Regions from separate parts of the Homo sapiens genome. Here regions 1 and 2 are each linked to region 3. Evidence: fine-mapped expression QTL. A gene starts in region 3. Each other region holds a variant in brackets. All regions are shown on one strand. Distances are from middle to middle. Region 1 overlaps MED15 (mediator complex subunit 15). Region 2 overlaps KLHL22 (kelch like family member 22). Region 3 holds the start of MED15 (mediator complex subunit 15).

What was found. PIP is the estimated chance that this variant, and not a neighbour inherited with it, causes the effect.
Region 1: its variant is fine-mapped to the expression of MED15 in blood mononuclear cells (TOPMed, PIP above 0.99). The same link has a PIP of 0.9 or more in thyroid.
Region 2: its variant is fine-mapped to the expression of MED15 in whole blood (TOPMed, PIP 0.98).

Annotation. Positions count from the first base shown.
Region 1 is chr22:20,531,863-20,536,862 of GRCh38, reverse strand. All of the region lies in intron 1 of MED15 (mediator complex subunit 15), which reads right to left. Among named protein-coding and RNA genes, the nearest start is that of MED15, 27 kb to the right of the region's middle. The variant A/G (reference allele first, on the strand shown) is at 2,046.
Region 2 is chr22:20,453,023-20,460,599 of GRCh38, reverse strand. It overlaps KLHL22 (kelch like family member 22), which reads left to right. Exons shown (of 7, transcript NM_032775.4): 5 at 2,600-2,792. It also overlaps the pseudogene KLHL12P1. Among named protein-coding and RNA genes, the nearest start is that of SCARF2, 19 kb to the right of the region's middle. RefSeq lists a silencer at 672-870 and enhancers at 3,835-4,336, 5,085-5,254. The variant A/T (reference allele first, on the strand shown) is at 3,782.
Region 3 is chr22:20,502,912-20,510,343 of GRCh38, reverse strand. MED15 (mediator complex subunit 15) reads right to left here and starts at 2,734. Exons shown (of 18, transcript NM_001003891.3): 1 at 2,598-2,734. The coding sequence starts at 2,665. RefSeq lists enhancers at 2,642-2,751, 4,631-5,130.

The DNA of each region.
Region 1 (5,000 bases), 28 kb before region 3:
ATGAAGGGACGGGGCGGGGGAGGGGTTGCCCCTAGGGATGGCTCACAACCAGTTCAGGATCAAGGAAGTACGCATTAGACTACTGGGTGGCCAGCTGGCCTCTATTTCCTGCTCTCTGAGTGGCCTGCGTTCCCCATGAACTCTGCCAGATGGTAGCACCCTGGTTCTAGACTCGATTACTCCTATAAAATGAAGGGGCCACATGAAGTCATCTCTCAGTCCCTCCCAAGGCAAGGGTCTGTCCCTATGTGGGACAATGCAGGTCCTATATGTGGGATCAAAGAGACAAGCTCCAACTTCACTTCTAGCTAGAGACAAGAAGAGAAAGACCACATAAATGTGAAAAATATCTTTAAAAACCCATTTACCAACAATTTTGTACTAAGAGATAGAATCCTATGAAGAGTTTTTCATCACACTGCTGCTCCACGGGGATAAAGAGCCATGTACATCAGTTAAGGTGGAGACCCCTCGAATGCAGCACATGCTGCCCCACCCACCCCCACCCCCACCTCCCACACTCACACACAGAAAGACAAAAACAAGTGTGAATCTGTTAGAAAGGCCTGGCCTGTGGCTCCCAGGGGTGGACTGCTCTGGTGTGCTCACTGCCTGCCTTCTTGCCAGTGGGATGGGTCTCTTCCTTGCCTGGCCTCCCACCCTGGGCTTGCTGATAAAGAAACAAGTGGCCAGGTGCAGTGCCACACGCCTGTAATCCCAACACTTTGGGAGGCCGAGGCGGGTGGATCATCTGAGGTCAGGAGTTCAAGACCAACCTGACCAACATGGTGAAACCCTGTCTCTACTAAAAATACAAAATTAGCAGGGTGTGGTTGCGCATGCCTGTAATCTCAGCTACAAAGGAGGCTGAGGCAGGAGAATCGCTTGAACCGGGAGGTGGAGGTTGCAGTGAGCCGAGATTGCGCCACTGCACTCCAGCCTGGGTGACAGAGCGAAACTCCATCTCAAAAAAAAAAAAAAAAAAAAAAAGAAAGAAAGAAGCAGGCTGAGCACGGTGGCTCACGCCTGTAGTCCCAGCACTTTGGGAGGCCAAGGCGGGCAGATCACGAGGTCAGGCGAGCACGACCATCCTGGCTAACACAGTGAAACCCTGTCTCTACTAAAAATACAAAAAATTAGCTGGGCATGGTGGCAGGCGCCTGTAGTCCCAGCTACTCGGGAGGCTGAGGCAGGAGAATGGCATGAACCCGGGAGGCGGAGCTGGCAGTGAGCGGAGATTGCGCCACTGCACTTCAGCCTGGGCAACAGTGCGAGACTCCGTCTCAAAAAAAAAAAAAAGAAAGAAAGCAAAAGAAAAAAGAAACAAGCAAACATGTCAGGGCTCTGGGGCCTTGCCTCTGAGTGAATTGAATAGGCCCAGTCCAGCTCGTGCTAGAAAGCATTCTGACCACTCCAAACAGCAACCAGCCAACCTCAGGAAACTGAAGGAATGTACAGACGGGGCTACAGCAATATGACTGTGATTCTTAAAGACATCACAGAAAGGAGGTTTAATGCTGAGAGGTGCATACATCTGTCTTAATGTAAAAAGAAAAACAAAATGACATTGACCTACCACCCTGCTAGATTCAAAAAGCACTCTTGGGCTGGGCACGATGGCTCAGGTCTGTAATCCCAGCACTTTGGGAGGCCGAGGCAGGTGGATCACCTGAGGTCAGGAGTTTGAGACCAGCCTGGCTAACGTGGTGAAACCCTGTCTCCACTAAAAATACAAAAATTAGTCGGGTGTGGTGGCAGGCACCTGTGGTCCCAGCTACTCGGGAGGCTGAGGCAGGAGAATCGCTTGAACCCTGGAGGCAGAGGTTGCAGTGAGCCAAGATGGCACTACTGCACTCCAGCCTGGGCGACAGAATGAGACTCCTGCACTCTTGGAGTTCCTACCTCCCTGTCTGCTTCCTGAAGCCTGAAGGGAGGCGAGGAGGCAGCAAGGGGTTTCTGCTCACAAGGCATCCAGGTGTGGAACAGACAAGTAAGAAAGGTCACCAGGGCCACAAAAGATGAGAGAGTTAACAATCCAGGAGGAT[A/G]ATGACAACCAACTCACGCGCGGCACTGGGTCAGAGTCCTGGGGAAGCGAGGCATGGGTGGGCTGGGAGGACCCTGTACTCATGCTCTCAGGTTAGCATGGGGCAGGGTCTCCACACCCAGAGGCTGAGACGATAGCTGCTAGGCCCCAAGAAGTCAGTGAGCATTTCTGATAGAAGTGGCTGCACAGGCCTGTTTTCTGAAGGTTGCCTCATCTGTGCCCCTCAAGGCAGGTATGCCCTTCAAAGGCATACTTGTTCTTCCCACCTTCCTTTTTTCTTTTTCTTCTTTTGTTTTTTGAGACAATGTCTCACTCTCTCACAGGTGCAGCGCAGTGGGGCAAACACAGCTCACTGCAGCTTCAAACTCCTGGGCTCAAGTATCCTCTCACCTCAGCCTCCCAAATAGCTGGGACTACAGGCATGCGCCACCACGCCTGGCTAATTTTTTTATTTTTTACTTTTTTTGTAGAGACAGGGTCTTGCTTTGTTGCCCAGGCTGGTCTCAAACTCCTGGCCTTAAGTGATCCTCCACCTTGGCCTCCCAAAGCACTGGGACCAATAGGGAGACTCAGGGAAGAGCAGTAGAAACAGCAGGGGAGCATTTGCAGGCCAAGCAGGACGGCCTGGAGGCTGGCTGTGTAAGGAGTGGGGAGGCTGTGGGTGGCAGATGTGGCCAGGAGTCAGAGAGGAAGAAGGGTGCAGAAGAGTCTGGGGAGTGACAACCAGTTACACAGATGGGCTCTGTGCCCACCAGCAGCGATCAGAGAGCAAAGCCAGGCTTTGATACAAAAGCAGTCCTTTTGAGCTGCTACTGGCCGTTTTTGAGAGTGTCAGCAGACTGGCAGGCCCCAGACAGACACTGTCTTGGTGCAGCAGAGACACCTGGCACAGTCAGAGAGACAAGATCTAGAAACACAGCTTAGTGCAATAGCTCTGAGGTGGTGGGATGACCAGGTTGAAGAAATATGCTTGGTGAGCTGAAGGCAAGGTGGCACCATACACCAGGGGATGTACTGGCAGACGGGCCCTGTCCTGTCCTGGGTAATGTCACAGATGACATGGACACTGTGGGCACCGTCAGCTACTCAGAGCCTGAGGAGCATGGACCAAGCTGGAGGCCAGAAACAGGCAAGTCTTGACAGGCCAACACCAGGAAACCGAGTTGGGGTAAATGTCCAGTTCCACATGAGCTTCGGAGGGTCAGAGTGGGGCCAAGGAGCAAGGTGCTCCTCCGGCAAGGCGCTCCTCCAGCAAGGCTACCGCTCAGAACAGCAGCACTGTGCCATGTCACTCCCACATCTCTCCCACAGCATCCACCCAGGGAGGCCCAGCAGGTTTGGTGGCCAGTAACAGACCCTGTGTGGTTTTGCAGTTCTGACAACTGTATTTTTGAAAATGTCTTTGCTCCTGTTTCTAGTTTGAAGATCAAGTGTCACAAAATAGAGACAAAGCGAAAAAGAACCCAGGAACTCTGCAGCTAATCCCCCACACTTCCCTGCAGATGCCTGCCCTTTCCTCTCCAGCTGGCCTGGCGCTTTTCAGAGGCATCCCCTGCCTGGACATTGACTCCAGGAGGGTACCCATTTCACACTCCTGCTGAGGTCAAGTCCCCTTCCTTCCTCCCTTAGACCTAACACACCCGCTGCGGGAGGCTGCAGGCAGGACCCAGGCCCACCTTCAGAACAGCACTGGCTGCTCCCAAAGCCCCCTTCTGATCTCCCTGAGCTGGGCTCTGCTGCCATCCCCAGCATGCCTTCCTGAGCAGCCAGACCCGAATGGCTACTCCTCAGTCTCTGTCTCCTGAAAACAAAACCCTTCGAGCCACTGTCACGAAATGAAAGGAAACTATCACACAAGGAGACAGCCCCCAACATGGAGTAAGGAGCACAGCCTGAGACAAAGAACAGAGAACCCACATGTCACAGTGAGCTCTTCCCCCACACAAGCAAGCCGGGAAGACGAGGGCCTGTCCAGCCAGAGGAGGACAAAGAGCAGACTGGTGTCAGCTCACAAGGGAAGACCCTTGATGGCTGTCCTGCCACAGTCCTGTCCAACATAAGCAACAGGTTCACAAACAGTACAGGCCTATGAGGCGGCCACCAAAGAACCCAAGGCTGCCTGGGTGGTGCTCGCTCTAGCTGAGGAAGGGGGCTGGGGGCCACTCCCTGGTTGCGACCAGCCAGACCTCTGAACACAAGGACTGTTACCGGCTCAGAGCACACAGTCCCTTGCTGTGAACTGGGCTCCAATGCTCTGCCTTTGGCCATGGTCTAGCTGGTTGCCATAGCTATGTCTGTGTACTCAGTCAGGGTTCAACTGGTATCTAGCTTAGACTGAAGCCTCCCAGGGGACCGATTCATCATTACAGGCCCTTGGAGCTCCCCCACTAAGGGGTCTGAGGATGTCCTTACTGTCCAGAACTGTTCCCAGAACACAGTGTGTCTTAATGGCATTGCCCGACCCTGCCTGAGCAGCCAGCAGGGATACATCAAGAAAAGCTCTTCGTGTCTTCATCTCCCAGCACCAAGTGCCCATCCCAGAAACTTGGGAACTCCCTTCACTTTCTGACTGCCACCTTTAATTCTCCAAAGTTCAAATCTTTGCCCCAACTCCCACTGCATCTGTGGCAATTCCTCCCAAAGGGCCTCTGTCTCCCGTTCCCATTCCTACCCCCACGCCCTCGCCAGCTCCCCAGGTCACATGACTGCCAGTGAGCAACTGCCACTGAGTGTGGGAAGCAACCCAGGCCCCTGCTTGCTTTGAGCCTCGCTCCTCACCAGCAGAGCAGGCAGCCTGTCCAGGAGCCCACTGAGGAGCCTGCTCCTGCGCCTGCCCCACACACTCTCCCCAGGGCCCCAGGGATGATGACCTACTACCTGGCACATTGCCTGACTATCCCATCAGGCCTGTTAGGGCCTCCCACCCTGCTTCCACCCAGGCACCCCTGCTGTCGGC
Region 2 (7,577 bases), 50 kb after region 3:
TTTCACTCTGTCGCCCAGGCTGGAGTGCAATGGCATGATCTCAGCTCACTGCAACTTCTGCCTCCCGGGTTCAAGTGATTCTCCTGCCTCAGCCTCCCGAGTAGCTGGAACTACAGCCACACACCACCATGCCTGGCTAATTTTTTTATATTTTTAGTGGAGACGGGGTTTCACCATATTGGACAGTCTGGTCTTGAACTCCTGACCTCGTGATCCACCCGCCTCAGCCTCCCAAAGTTCTGGGATTACAGGCGTGAGCCACCACGCCCGGCCCTGTGTGTGTCTTTAAATTTGAAGCCACAAATCCACATGAACTCAGCTTAAAAAGCTGTGAGGACAATAGACTCGAAGGAGCAAACAGGAGCACATGGAGGGTCCTATCTCACTCTGGTTGCAGACACTTGGGGTGCAGATGGTGATTGAGCCAGACTGAACACAAGAGAGGAGAGACTTGTATATAAAGGAGGAAGGCGCACAGGAAAGGCAGTGAACAGCACCATCCCAGCCAGTTGACGGGGCCCCTGTGAGTGCTGTGCCCCAATCCTGGACTGCTGGTCCCCTGCCAGACCTTCTTCTGGCTTGTGCCCCAGGTCATGCAGGTCTCAGACCCTGCCTTCTCAGGAGGCCTTTCCTGATCACTGCAAGGGAGCTCTGCCCTCCCCAGGCCCCGCTGACCAGCAGGTCACTCATCTTCTTACCTCCCTTTCTTTCTTTCACAGTGTCTGTCATTATATTAAGCACTCATTTGCTCTGGTTAGCCTGTTTCCATTCTGCAGGGGAAGGCAGGGCCCTGACCTCTTGAGGCTCCCTCTGGATGTAGTGCTGAGCACTGTGCCCCATCCACAGTGGGAGACCTGGGAATGTTGGTAGAGTGAATGAATGATTCATTGCTGGTAATCTTACTCCTTTGTTTAATTCATTCAGCAGACAGAACATAATCTGTCCTGAGCCAGAGGCTACACTGAGGTCTAGGAATATAGAAATGAACCATGATCCATCAGAACCCCCAAGTTAACAAGGACACTTTTCATGCTCGTCTTTTATGATTCTTCTTGATAGCTTTTCTAGGCAGGTGATATCACCTCATTGGACAGGTGCAGAACTGAGCGAATCCCAAGAGATTAAAACTGATGCCCAGGCACACCCAGCTAGACAGGGAAGAGCCCAGGATTCACACCAGGTCAGGGAGACCCAGGTGTGTGTTCCCTCTCTTGTTGGCCCTGCCTTCTGAGGCTCCTGTTTGCTGCATTCCTGGTAGGCGGCGGGGAGGGGCTGGCCACACTGCAGGGGCTGCAGGAAGCAAAGGATGAAACTGATCTTTTCACTAACCAGCATAGGGCACAGGCCAAAGAAAACTTTGGTTACTCTCTTGTGAGCCAGTTGAAGTTAGACTTGTTCTCTTTGGAATAGGTCTTCCTCTGCAGAAATAAAAACACTTGTCTGAAAGAGGCTGTAACTATCTGTGGGCTGTTGGGCAAGGACACTTCAGATACTGGCTTTGAGCTCACTGGGTCCTGGCCCCTCATGGCTCTGTGATCATCTCTGCTCCACATTGCAGGCCATGCTCCCTGTTGGTGCTCAGCCCAGGAGCCCTCCTTGGGTCCTGGCCAGACTCCTCCACCCTCGTGGGCCTGCCGCAACCAGTCTAGTGCCTTTTCTCCCATGGGGGTCCCTGGAATCTCACACACCCTGCCCTTACAGAGCCTGCAGTCCAGGGTGGGAGTTAACCCTTTCCACTTTCCCAGAGAGGGAGACCTTGAGTGGAGGGGAGGTCAGGAAACGCGGGGCTGGCAGCATGGTGGGAGGAGGTGAAAGTACGATGACCAGAGCCTTGTGTGTGCGGCTGTTGACAAAGCTGAGGGTATGATGGGTGCTGTGTGCAGGGCGTGCCTGAGAAGACCACTCCTGATGGAGTGCTGGGGGAAGTTCAAGGCTTGGAGGCCAATGAGGGGGCTGATGGCACCCATCCAGTGGAGAGGCTGTATTTGGAGGCCCTCCTGAGTGGGAGCAAGGCTATGTGGATGATGAGATGAGGTAAGTGAGATGGAAGTGGCTGTACGAACAGCCATTGAGGCTGAGGCAGGAGGATTGCCTAAGTCCATATCCCAGGTGTCAAGACCTTGTCTCTATCAAAAAAAAAAAAAAAAAAAAAAATAGCGGGCGTTGTGGTGCGCACCTGTAGTCCCAGCTACTTAGGAGACTGAGGTGGTAGGATCACTTAAGCCCAGGAGGTCGAGGCTACAGTGAGCCATGATTGTGCCACTGCACTTCAGCCTAGGGGACAGAGAGACCTCTCTCCACAAAAAAAAAAAAAAAAAAAAAAAAAGAGCCATTGGACAGCCCAGGTGGACAGTTAGGTGGAAACACAGGAGGCTCCTGGCCATTCCTTCCATGCTGTGTGGTGGGGAGCACCTGTGCTCAGGTGTGTAACAGCCTGTGGGCCTGGCTGTAGATCGGTGTGCACTGGTATGTGGGGTAGTTGGGGAGGGTTCAGGCTGGGCTGAGGCAAAGCAGAAATGGGACCAGAACAAGAGGTGCAAGCCTGCGGAGCAGCCTCCCTGCCTAGTCAGTGCTGTGCTTTCCTCATGTCTCGGCACAGGTATGACCCACGGCACAACCGCTGGTTCCAGATCCAGTCCCTGCAGCAGGAGCACGCCGACCTGTCCGTGTGTGTTGTAGGCAGGTACATCTACGCTGTGGCGGGCCGTGACTACCACAATGACCTGAATGCTGTGGAGCGCTACGACCCTGCCACCAACTCCTGGGCATACGTGGCCCCACTCAAGAGGGAGGTAAGGAAGCCCTCGAAGAGGGGCCTTCTCCTGCCTAATTTCCTTCCCCAGGATGTGCAAAGAGTGAGAGGCCTAGGTGTCAAGGCCTGTCCCAGGTCAGAGAAACAGGCTCAGTGAGCAGAATCCATGCTTCTCCAGAGACCCTGCATTGAATGCATTGATGAGGCCCCATGAGGTTCAGCCAGTCCACCTGGGGAGGCTCATCAAGGATCCAGACCCCATTGCTCAGAATTGTGCCCCACTTGTGAGTCTTACATGCTGAGACCTTGTCACACCACCTTGGCCCTGGCAAGCTGCTTAAACCTTGTAGTTCAAATGTGGATAGAACATTTGCTCTTTGTGCAGCTGAGACGAGCTGGGACACTTCCAGAGATGTTAAACAGGAAGGGACCCTGAGAGCTCACTGGCCTATCCTCAGACCTCTTCCCTCTAGGTCCCCTGAAGGGTGGCGCCTTCCAGAGCCAAGAAACACTCTAAGGTTTTATTTTTTATATTAAATCCTATGTTTGAATATTGGGACAACTTGAAAAAAAAATCACGTGCATCCTATATAATACCTTGGTTTATTCCAATTTGAAGATGTTTAAAATTATGTTCATTATGGAAAAATGATGTTTTAGGGAGGTGCCTCTCTTTTATCTTACGACTTTGGGGTACTCAGGCCTGGTGTAACAACCAGACATGGGATCCCAGGGAAGGAACAGGCCTTGCTGGCCCCCTACTTCCTGGGTCTCAGCCTCCGAGAACAGGGCATACCCTAGCAGTACTAGGGGTACCCTAGCAGGGCACCCCGCTAGTACTGGCATAGCATTTGTGGAGCACCTGCTATGGGCCAGGTACACCTTTGGGGATAACCGAGCACCTGAGAGGCAGAGGATGGTATGGGGGGCAGGTTCTACCTGCACTGCCTCAGGGAGTTTAGCAAGAGCTCTGGCCTTTGTAAGCCTCTTTCCAGTATCTCTCATGACCCCCAATTCCCCCAGGGACTT[A/T]GACTTTGACTTCAGGGGTCAGGGCTAGTGTCTCCTCAATGGATCCAGCTCTTCTTTATCCAGGTCATTCACACAGCCCACACAGATTTCTGTCTCTTGGGCAGCTGTGAGCTGCAAGCTGTGGCCTGCTCCTTGCTCTCAGCTTCTTTGGGGAGAAGGAAGCCTCTTTGGAAGGACACTCCGTACCCCCATCCTGGGGAAAGGAGCAGATTTTGCATGGAGAAGATCAGGAGGTCCTTGAGACCAAGTGGACAAGGAGGGCTCTTGGGTTCTGTTCCAGGAAGGGTGTTGGGGGAAGCCTCCTAGGTGGGTGTTGTGGGAGGGGCTTAGCAGTTTCTTTGTCTGCGGCAGCTGGGGAAGCAGCAGTTCTCCAGCTTGGCCACAGAGGGGCAGCCTTGGCTTTCAACCAGCTGCATCGTGGCTGCCGGTGTTCCTTCATGCACGCATTCATTCCGCAACTACTAAGCACCATGTACCAAGTCCTGGGAATCCAGTGGTGACAAGAAATGAGAAAGACTCCCCACTCCATGGTGTTTACAGCCTTGTAGGAGAAACCACTCTTAACCAGAAAACAGATCAGTAAAGTGGTTACAATTATGGTAAGTGAAATGAAGAGGGGGCTGAACTGGAGGATTTCCAGGGAGGGGGCTCTGGTAGGATGAATCTAGAGGGACTTTTTGGGGAATGTCCATCTGAGGAGATGTCAATTAGACCTGCCATTTACAGAGGGAGGAAATGTTACTGGGAATGTGTCCTCGGTTCTTGTCTTCTTGGTTAAGACTTTAAGCAAGAGACATGCATTAACGAAGATAAGTGTAAGGCAGTTTATTGCAAAAGTGAAGGTACATTCTGAAGGCCGAGTCAGAGCAGGCTGCTCCAGAATAAGATCGCCCCAACTGGCATGGGAAACCTCCCTTACAGGAGGCTTACATGATTATTCATAAATGGGCGGGAAGAGGTGTTACTCATAAGCATGTTTTGTTTGGGTGGTCTTCTAGCAGCGCATGCACTGTGGCTCTACGTGCTAGTGTATTTATCGCATGTCTCATTAGCATCTTAAATCTTCACCCAGGAGGTGTGTTTTTTACCACTGCAGTGAACAAAAGGTTACTTTCGAAGCAAGCAAAACTGGGGCAAACTATACAACACAGGCTCCCGGGGGTGGAAAGTTCCTTGTGGGGTTAGTTCCTACTTGAGCTGGATAAGCTTAACTGAAAGAGGGGTTGGGACTTTTGAAACCCCAGGTGTGGTTAACATGTCTCAGAGGTCATAGTCCCTCTGGCCATGCTAGGGGCTGAGGCCAACCTGGAGTCCACTTCCCTGCTCATATCTAACCATCTGCCTAGTCTAGCAGAAGGACCTTCCAGGGCAGGAGAGGGGCTCACAGCTTTTCCTGAGCAGGAGAGGAAGCATGGGGCATGCTTGTAGAAGAAGGAAGCCCAAGGATCAAGAGCAGAGCAAGCGAGGCTGGCCCTGGGTCATTGCGTGGTCTGGGCTGAAGACAGCAGTAGCCTGTGCTGGCACACAGCTGTGGAGCTGGAGGGAGATGGGAGGGTTCAGAGTGTAGCGTGGAGGTAAACTGATCAGGCTTGCTGATGGATCAGATGTTGGGGAATGAAAAAGGATAGGTCATGTTGGCAGGGCGCGGTGGCTCACGTCTGTAATCCCAGCACTTTGGGAGGCCCAGGCGGGGGGGATCACCTGAGGTCAGGAGTTCAAGACCAGCCTGGCCAACATGGTAAAACCCCATCTCTACTAAAAATACAAAAATTAGCTGAGCATGGTGGCAGGCGCCTATAGTCCCAGCTACTCAGGAGGCTGAGGCAGGAGAATGGCGTGAACCCGGGAGGCAGAGGTTGTAGTGAGCTGAGATCACACCACTGCATTCCAGCCTGGGCAACAGAGCAAGACTCTGCCAAGACTCCGTCTCAAAACAAACAAACAAAAAACCTCACAGGATTGGTACACTGAATATTACAAAAAGCCGATGAAAGAAATAAAAGAAGATGTGAATAGATGGAGAGACATACCAAGTCCATGGATTGGAAGAGTAAGAATAGTAAGAATGTCAGTTCTTTCCCAACCCAATTAATAATACATATATTAATACAGAATTCCTCATATTGATATAGTATTAATACAGGAATACTAGTATTCCTATCAAAATTTCAGGAAGGTTTTTTGTACTATTAAGGGAAAATGAAAATTGAAGCTGAGGTTTGGATATACCCCTAGGCCAACTGCCTGTAGCCATGTAACTGAAACTTAAGCTTTCCTCCCTCAGTGTGATAGCTTTACAAAGAAAGCTTATGCAGCTCCACATGCACAGTAGGGAACAATATTCTTCCTCATTCATGCTTTATAAACTGTGTTGTAACTGCTGTGAATTGGGGCTTCATACCACTTCCAGTTTGGGGTTTCCTGGTTCATGAACTCTTCTTTTACATGCACAATAAGCTTTTTAAAAATTTTTTTATTTTTATTTTTTTTGAGACAGAGTCTCGCTCTGTCACCCAGGCTGGAGTGCAGTGGCATGACCCCGGCTCACTGCAACCTCTGCCTCCCTGGTTCAAGTGATCCTCCTGCCTCAGCCTCCCAAGTAGCTGGGATTACAGGTGAGCACCACCATGCCCAGCTAATATTTATATTTTTAGTATCATGAAGGTTTCACCATATTGCCCAGGCTGTTCTTGAACCCCTGGTCTCAAGGGATCTGTCTGCCTCGGCCAAAGTGCAGGGATTAGAGAAGTGAGCCATCACATCCAGCCTAAAATTTTTTTTTATTGCTGGTCGCAGTGGCTCACGTCTGTAATCCCAGCACTTTGGGAGGCCGAGGATGGTGTATCGCTTGAGGTCAGGAGTTCAAGACCAGCCTGGCCAACATGGTGAAACCCCATCTCTACTAAAAATACAAATATTAGCTGGGTGTGGTGGCACACACCTGTAATCCCAGCTACTGGGGAGGCTGAGGCACAAGAATGGATTGAACCCAGGAGGCAGAGGTTGCAATGAGCCGAGATTGCGCCACTGCACTCCAGCCTGGGCGACAGAGTGAGACTGTCTCAAAAAATAATAATAAAATAAATTTCAAAATAAATAAAATAAATTTTTTAATTTTGATTTGATTTTACTTGTGACATTAGATGTAAATGAGATTATTCTGAAATGTATATATAAAGGCAAAGGAACTAGAATAGCTCAAATAATTTTGAAAAAGAACGATAAGATGGGAGGAGTCTGCCCAATTTCAAGATTACTACATAGCTACAGTAATCAAGGCTGTGGTATGGATACAGTGATAGACACATAGATCAGTGAAACAGAATGGAAAACCCACAGACCTGAGTAAATATGCCCAGTCATGTTACACATGATTTTGGACAAAGGTGCAGAAACAATTGAGTGGAGGAAAGATATCTTTCAGCAAATAGTACTGGAGCAATTAGACATGCGTCGGCAAAAAAATGGATATCAACCCAAGTCTCATACCATATACCAAAATGAATTCAAAATGGTTTATGGAGTTAAATGTAAAACCATAAAACTTCTAGAAAAAAAGAAGAAGAAAATCTTTTTTTTTTGAGACCATTGATTTTTAATATTTTCTTAAAAAAATACAAAAGAAATTAACTCTGTAGTACAGGTCAGTACACTTCAGGGAAAGAGGGAAAAATGGAATTTCAGAGCAAAGGTTGTTTAGGTTATCACATTCCCACACTCCCAATACCCATAAAACAAGAATTTCACTCCATGACACAGAGGAACATTGAATGATAGCTCAGAAATGTTGATAGCT
Region 3 (7,432 bases):
TGCGATCTCGGCTCACTGCAACCTCCGCCTCCCGGGTTCAAGCAATTCTCCTGCCTCAGACTCTTGAGTAGCTGGGACTACAGGTGTGCGCCATCACACCCAGCTAATTTTTGGATTTTTAGTAGAGATAGGGTTTCACCGTGTTGGCCAGGATGGGTCTCAGTCTCTTGACCTCGTGATCCGCCTGCCTCAGTCTCCCAAAGTGCTGGGATTACAGGCGTGAGCCACCACACCTGGCTAAAGGTGTGTTGTTTTAAGATGCTAAACTTGTGGTAATTTGTTAGAGCGGCAACAGAAAAACACACAAACAGCAATATCGAAAAAAATAAAGAACTCAATTCTCCCGGAAGCAAAATAAAGCTGAGTTATGAAGTATCCAGTCACTCAACACCCATAAACTCTTCAATCACCCTCCCAGCCCTCTTAACACTTCCCCTACCCCCATTTTCTTTGATGACAACTCACCCTTCCAGTTCTTAATTCTGGGCTTTCCCAGAGAAGAACCCTTGCCCTGGGGACTTTTCTTGCAGGAACCCTGAAGTGGGATATCTCTCAAGTTTTCACCTACAGATAACTATATTTTATCAGTAAAACACTGTTCACTGATTGTGCAATATCCCCAGAAATATCCCAAGGCTATTCTTCCCAAAGCCCATAGCTACTAACTCTACAGTCCCTACTCTTTCCACTGTACTGAAAGGTTTCCCAGCATTCAGCCCGGCTTCCTTCCTTCCACAATGCTTCACCCCACACCCCACCCCCCTCCATCCAGTTAGTCATCAAGAATTGTCTACGTTCCCCCTCCTCTGGAATCTGTCTTCCTCTTTCAGTTTCTACCACTGTCTAATGCAGGCCTTTATAATCTCCCGCCCGACTAGGTCATGCCACAATCATTTTACGGAGCAATGTGGCAGGCAGTGAGCTAGCAGTGAGAATATAAGGATGAAAAAGGACAGGTTCCCTACTCCCTCCAAATGTTCAAACTCTCTTAATAGCTTAACTGGTCTCTCTTCTCTGCCCTGCATCCATCTCCAGGGACAGGGACTCTAGGCATATTCCCAACACTGGCATTTCACTACTCCAAAGAATGCCACATGCCAAACACAGGCTCAATTCCTTGGCACAACACCCCCACTAAAGTGCTAGTACCTGCTCACCCTCATTCCATCATCTCCTGGGCTCTCTTACTCCTCGAGCCCCAGAACTCTCAGCCTACAAGATCCTCCCTCCACGCAGTAAATGCTCATGTTTCCTAACTCCTCAGCTTGGAATGGTGGCTATTCACACTCCTACTTGTCTTTCTAGGACTCAATTTATTCGTCACCTACTCACTAGACTGCCCCTGGTCTGCTCAAGTTAACCGCCGCTTCGCAAGAAACCCCTGCAGTATACACATTACAGACTGACAAGACTGCGCTGTGACGGTTCCTTTACCATCCCTCAGGAAAGGGGCTGTGTCTCAGGCAAATCTGTGGCGAGCACAACACGCCAATAAGCTCAGTTAAAAACTGTCAGGCCTCTGAGCCCAGGCCAGGCCATCGCATCCCCTGTGACTTGCACGTATACATCCAGATGGCCTGAAGTAACTGAAGATCCACAAAAGAAGTAAAAACAGCCGTAACTGATGACATTCCACCATTGTGATTTGTTCCTGCCCCACCCTAACTGATCAATGTACTTTGTAATCTCCCCCACCCTTAAGAAGGTTCTTTGTAATTCTCCCCACCCTTGAGAATGTACTTTGTGAGATCCATCCCTGCCCACCAGAGAACAATTGACTAATTTTCCATTACCTTCCCAAATCCTATAAAACGACCCCACCCCTATCTCCCTTCGCTGACTCTCTTTTCGGACTCAGCCCACCTGCACCCAGGTGAAATAAACAGCTTTATTGCTCACACAAAGCCTGTTTGGTGGTCTCTTCACACGGACGCGCATGAAAAAAACTGCTAACAGAAACAAGCAGTCGGTGGTGAGGGGCTAGAGTTCCTCTGAGCGGGGCCACTGACCCCAGCTCTTCACGCTCTCCTCCAGAAACGACGATCGCTTCCTGACAGCGGCTTCCTGCCATCCTTCGGCAAAGTCCACATTCCTTCGGGGGGTCACCCTCAGATCCTCCGTCCCACCGCCCACACCCCAAACAACTACCTTCCCAATCTCATCTTACATCCACCCTCCTCCCATCACTTTCTTTCACCGTTGATGCGCTTTTCTGGAAGAGAAACCATGAAGCACCCAGCCCTGCTAAACCCACTACAGCCGGCTGCTTCTCTCCCTTTCCCTATTCAGTGTGGTTCAAAAAGCGGGGGAAAGTCTGCACCCAAAGCACACAAATGACGAATGAGAAAGCTCAAGACGATGATTCATAAGCCAGGGCTCGTTGGTTTGCAGAGCTCGGCCCCAGGAAAGCAAACGAGCAGTCCATGTCGGGAACGGAGGGGACAGACGGGGGGGCCCGAGCCCTGGGACCCACGCAAGTCCCCGGCGCCTTCTGTCTCCCGGCGCCGTAGGTTTCTCACGGGTCCGGCCCTGGCCTCGCCCGCCACGCTAAGGAGGAAGGTCCCACAATCCAGCCCCCTGCCCCGACCACTACTCACATTTGACTGACCAGCTTCTGCCGGAAGGCGGTGCTCCGCCAGTCGGTCTCTTGCCCGGAAACGTCCATGCCTGTTCCCCAGCTCCCGCCGCCCGTATCCCGCTTGGCCGCCACCGCCGCCGCCTCAGTCACAGAGCCAGGCCCAAACCCGGAAGCCGTCCGCAGTGCCTCGGCCGAGCCGGAAGTGAAGGAGGGCTTGTGGGAAATGGAGTCTCGCGCACAGGCTTGTGGGAAATGAAGTTCCCCGCCGGGGACGAAGCGGTCTCGGTTCCGCCCGGCTGGGAGACACACGCCCCTCTTCCAGTGCAGCTGTCGGACACGGCAGGTGCTCCCGCAGCAGACCTGCGCCTGACCGCCTGCATTTTCTGCAACTCTTCAGTGTGCTGGCCTTATCTAGTCCCTGAGATCCAGACCCCTCCGGGATGCCAGGCCAAGCTGCCAGCTATCTATAGTAATGCTAGGGAGAGAGTGTTTATTTATCAAATATGTGTGGGTACCTACTGTGTGCCAGTGCAACGTGATCTGGGATCTGCTTTCATGCAACTGCCTGCTAGCGCCGCATCCGAAGAGCGACCAGATGGACTCTCATCACCGCTTCACTCTTCGATTTTTTGAATCTCACATCTCACAATGGCTGTATTTGGGGGTTGGGAATGTGAGGCCCCTAAACCACGTTAATTAATTTTTAGACATGGGCTTTCCCTTTTGACCAGCAGCCACGTCCCCTTCATGGAGAACTCAGCCTAGCTAGTTGCTGGAGGCCAGATGTCAAACGAATTTGATAGGTGAAGGTGAGCGAGCTGAAGGTGGGATGAGGGGTTATGGGGGCCTGAGAATGCTTTTAGGAATGTAAAAGTTCTGCCTCCTTGGAACTATGGGGCCTTTATCTGCTACCCTGGGGAGGGAGGTGACGTGAGGAAAATCTGGAGCCCAAGTGGTCAATAAGCACCAGGTGGACACCAACCAACATGGGCCTCAGGAGACTGTGGACTGGCACCTACTGAAGCCTAAGTGCCAGGCCCCTGCTAGGCACTGTACACCCCTTACACCCCTTGTTACTGTGCCCCAGACAGGAGGTTGAAGGTGGTAGAGAGTGGGTGGGAGAGGAGTGAGCACTCTCCCCAAAGAGGCCTCTCTTGCCAACAGAGTTTCATGTCTTGTGTTGATGTGAGAGCTGTTCATGTTTTCAAACGTTTTCTGCTCTAATACTCCCAAAATCGTTATTGTTTTTTTTGAGGGGGGGGGGATAGAATTTAGCCCTTGTTGGCCAGGCTGGAGTGCAGTGGTGCCATCTCGGCTCACTGCAACCTCTGTCTCCCGGGTTCACGCAATTCTCCCACCTCAGCTTCCCCAGTAGCTGGGATTACAAGCGTACCCCACCATGCCTGGCTAATTTTTGTATTTTTAGTAGAGACAGGGTTTCACCACGTTGGCCAGGCTGGTCTCGAACTCCTGACCTCAGGTGATCCACCTACCTCGGCCTCCCAAAGTGCTGGGATTACAGGCATGAGCCACCGTGCCCGGTGGCAAAACTAATTTTTTTTTTTTGAGATGGAGTCTCGCCCTGTTGCCCAGACTGGAGTGCTGTGGTGACATCTCGGCTCACTGCAACCTCTGCCTCCCGGGTTCAAGTGATTCTCCTGCCTCAGCCTCCCAAGTAGCTGGGATTACAGGTGCCTGCTACGAAGCCCAGCTAATTTTTTGTATCCTTAGTAGAGACAGGGTTTCACCATCTTGGCCAGGCTGAAAACTAATTTTTAAAAACTCTATCTAGAGTGATCATCTTGACCGGGGTTGCCCAGGACATCCAAGGTTTTAGTGTTTTTTTCCTTGTTTTATTTTGTTGTTGTTGTTTGTTTGTTTGTTTTTTGAGATGGAGTCTTGCTCTGTTGCCCAGGCTGGAGTGCAGTGGCACAATCTTGGCTCACTGCAAGCTCCGCCTCCCGGGTTCACGCCATTCTCCTGCCTCAGCCTCCCAAGTAGCTGGGACTACAGGCGCCCGCCACCACGCCCAGCTAATTTTTTTGTATTTTTAGTAGAGACAGGGTTTCACCGTGTTAGCCAGGATGGTCTCGATCTCCTGACCTCATGATCCGCCTGCCTCGGCCTCCCAAATTGCTGGGATTACAGGCGTGAGCCACCGCGCCCGGCCCTTGGTTTTTTTTTTTTTTTTTTTTTTTTTTTTTTTGAGACAGAGTCTCACTCTGTCGCCCAAGCTGGAGTGCAGTGGCGCAATCTCAGCTCACTGCATCCTCCGCCTCTCAGGTTCAAGTGATTCTCCTGCCTCAGCCTCCTGAGTAGCTGGGACTACAAGCACCTGGCACCACATCTGGCTAATTTTTGTATTTTTGGTGGAGACAGGGTTTCACCATGTTGGCCAGGATGTTCTCAATCTCCTGACCTGGCGATCCACCCGCCTTGGCCTCCCAAAGTGTTGGGATTACAGGCGTGAGCCACCACGCCCAGCCTTGTTTTCTTTTTTTTTGAGACAGAGTCTCGCTAGGTCTGCCAGGCTTGAGTGCAGTGGCGTGATCGCTTACTGCAGTCCCCGCCATCCGGGGTTCAAGTGATTCTCGTGCCTCAGCCTCCCCAGTAGCTGGGACTACAGTGCGCCACCACGCCCGACTCATTTTTGTATTTTATTTTATTTTATTTTTAGTAAAGATGGGGTTTCACCATGTTGCCCAGGCTGGTCTTGAACTCCTGACAGGTGATCCGCCTGCCTCGGCCTCCCAAAGTGCTGGGATTACAGGTGTGAGCCACCGTGCCCAGCCCCAGGTTTAAGTTTTGAAAGTCCTGTGTTCTGGCTGGGCATGGTGGCTCACGCCTATAATCCCAGCACTTTGGGAAGCTGAGGCAGGTGGATCACCTGAGGTCAGGAGTTCGAGACCAGCTTGGCCAACATAGTGAAACCCCGTCTCTACTAAAAATACAAAAGTAGCCAGGCATGGTGGTGTGTGCCTGTAATCCCAGCTACTCAGGAGGCTGAGGCACGAGAATCACTTGAACCCAGGAGGTGGAGGTTGCAGTGAGCTGAGATTATGCCATTGCACTGCAGCCTGGGCAACAAGAGCGAAACTCTGTCTCAAACAAACAAACAAACAAACATGTTAATAGGATACTTAGGACAACCCTCCCCCTTCTGCACTATGGTTGATGGAGACACAGACACATAATTCACAGACACAGACAGAGAGAGGCCTGGAACTTTGCCAGGAGTTTATCATCACAGTAAAATTGAGTGACTATTCCCTTTGGTATTTTCCCCAGAGCTCTTTTTCTACTTGTCCCCGCATTGGGTTGGTGCCCAGGGCAGTGATCCCTGGTGACAGTCTGGATGGGTGACCTGGAAAGGTGGACCAAGGAAAGTAAGGGGCCACAGGAAGGTTGATCCTGAAGTGGACTTGCCCTCTCTTGACACTGTAGACCCTCCTGGGATCCCCAGTCTGGATGTTAGTGGTTTAGATGTCTGAGAATAAGTGATGGAGGAAGCCGAGGGTATGCAGAGGCCAGACCTGCATCCCACACTATGTTCTGGGGATCCTCATCTCGGGGGAGATCCTCACTGCTCATGTGGCCATGTCTCTAGCCTGCGGGTTCCTGCAGGCTACCATGCCAAGGCTGGTTCCACTCAATGGCCACATATTTCCTGGACACCATTCTGGGCTCTGCAGGAGGTAGGAGCTGGAAGCTTCCCAGGCAGATCAAGCTTCCCCCTAGAGAGCTCAGCACAAGCTCTGTGAGCCTGTGGCTGTCTCCATACAGCCTCACCTCCAATCTTCCTCCTTGCTTTGGCACTCAGTCCCTGGGAGGTGGTGACCTGCCCCACCTTCCATCCTAGCACCAGCCAGATGTAACTCCTCTGTGTGTTTGGCCTGGAGCCTGTAATCACTTATGTATGTGGAGGTAGGGAGGGAGTGGTTATTGTTTCTTTTTTTTTTTTTTTTGAGATGGAGTCTCACTCTGTTGCCCAGGCTGGAGTGCAGTGGTGCAATCTTGGCTCATTGCAACCTCCAGCTCCTGGGTTCAAGCAATTCTGCCTCAGCCTCCCAGGTAACTGGGATTACAGGCGCACGCCACCATACTTGGCTAATTTTTTGTATTTTTAGTAGAGATGGGGTTTCACCATGTTGGCTAGGCTGGTCTCGAACTCCTGACCTCAAATATCCACCTGCCTCAGTCTCCCAAAGTGCTGGATTACAGGCATGGGCCACCGCGCCAAGCCATGCAATTCATTTTTTTTTTGAGACAAAGTCTCACTCTGTTGCCTGGGCTGGAGTGCAGCAGCACGATCTTGGCTCATTGCAACCTCCGCCTCCCAGGTTGAAGCAATTCTCCTGCCTCAGACTCCCAAGTAGCTGGGATTACAGGCTTGTACCACCGTGCCCAATTTTTTTTTTTTTTTTTGAGATGGAGTCTCGCACTGTCTCCCAGGCTGGAGTGCAGTGGCACGATCTCGGCTCACTGCAACCTCCACCTCCCAGGTTCAAGCGATTCTCCTGCCCCAGCCTCCCAAGTAGCTGGGATTACAGGTAGGTCCCGCCACCACACCTGGCCTTACTTTTTATTTTTAGTAGAGACCAGGTTTCACCATATTGGCCAGGCTGGTCTTAAACTCCTGACCTCAGGTGATCCGCCCGCCTCGGCCTCCCAAACTGCTGGGACTACAGGGGTGAGCCCAGCCGCAATTCATTTTTATTGCACATTTTGCTCTTAGGTTGGATTGATAGTTTTATTATCTTTACCATTCAGTAGTGATAACATAAAACTTGTTTGACTAGTCCATCAATTTTCTTTTTTGAAACGGAGTCTTGCTTTGTTGCCCAGGCTGGAGTA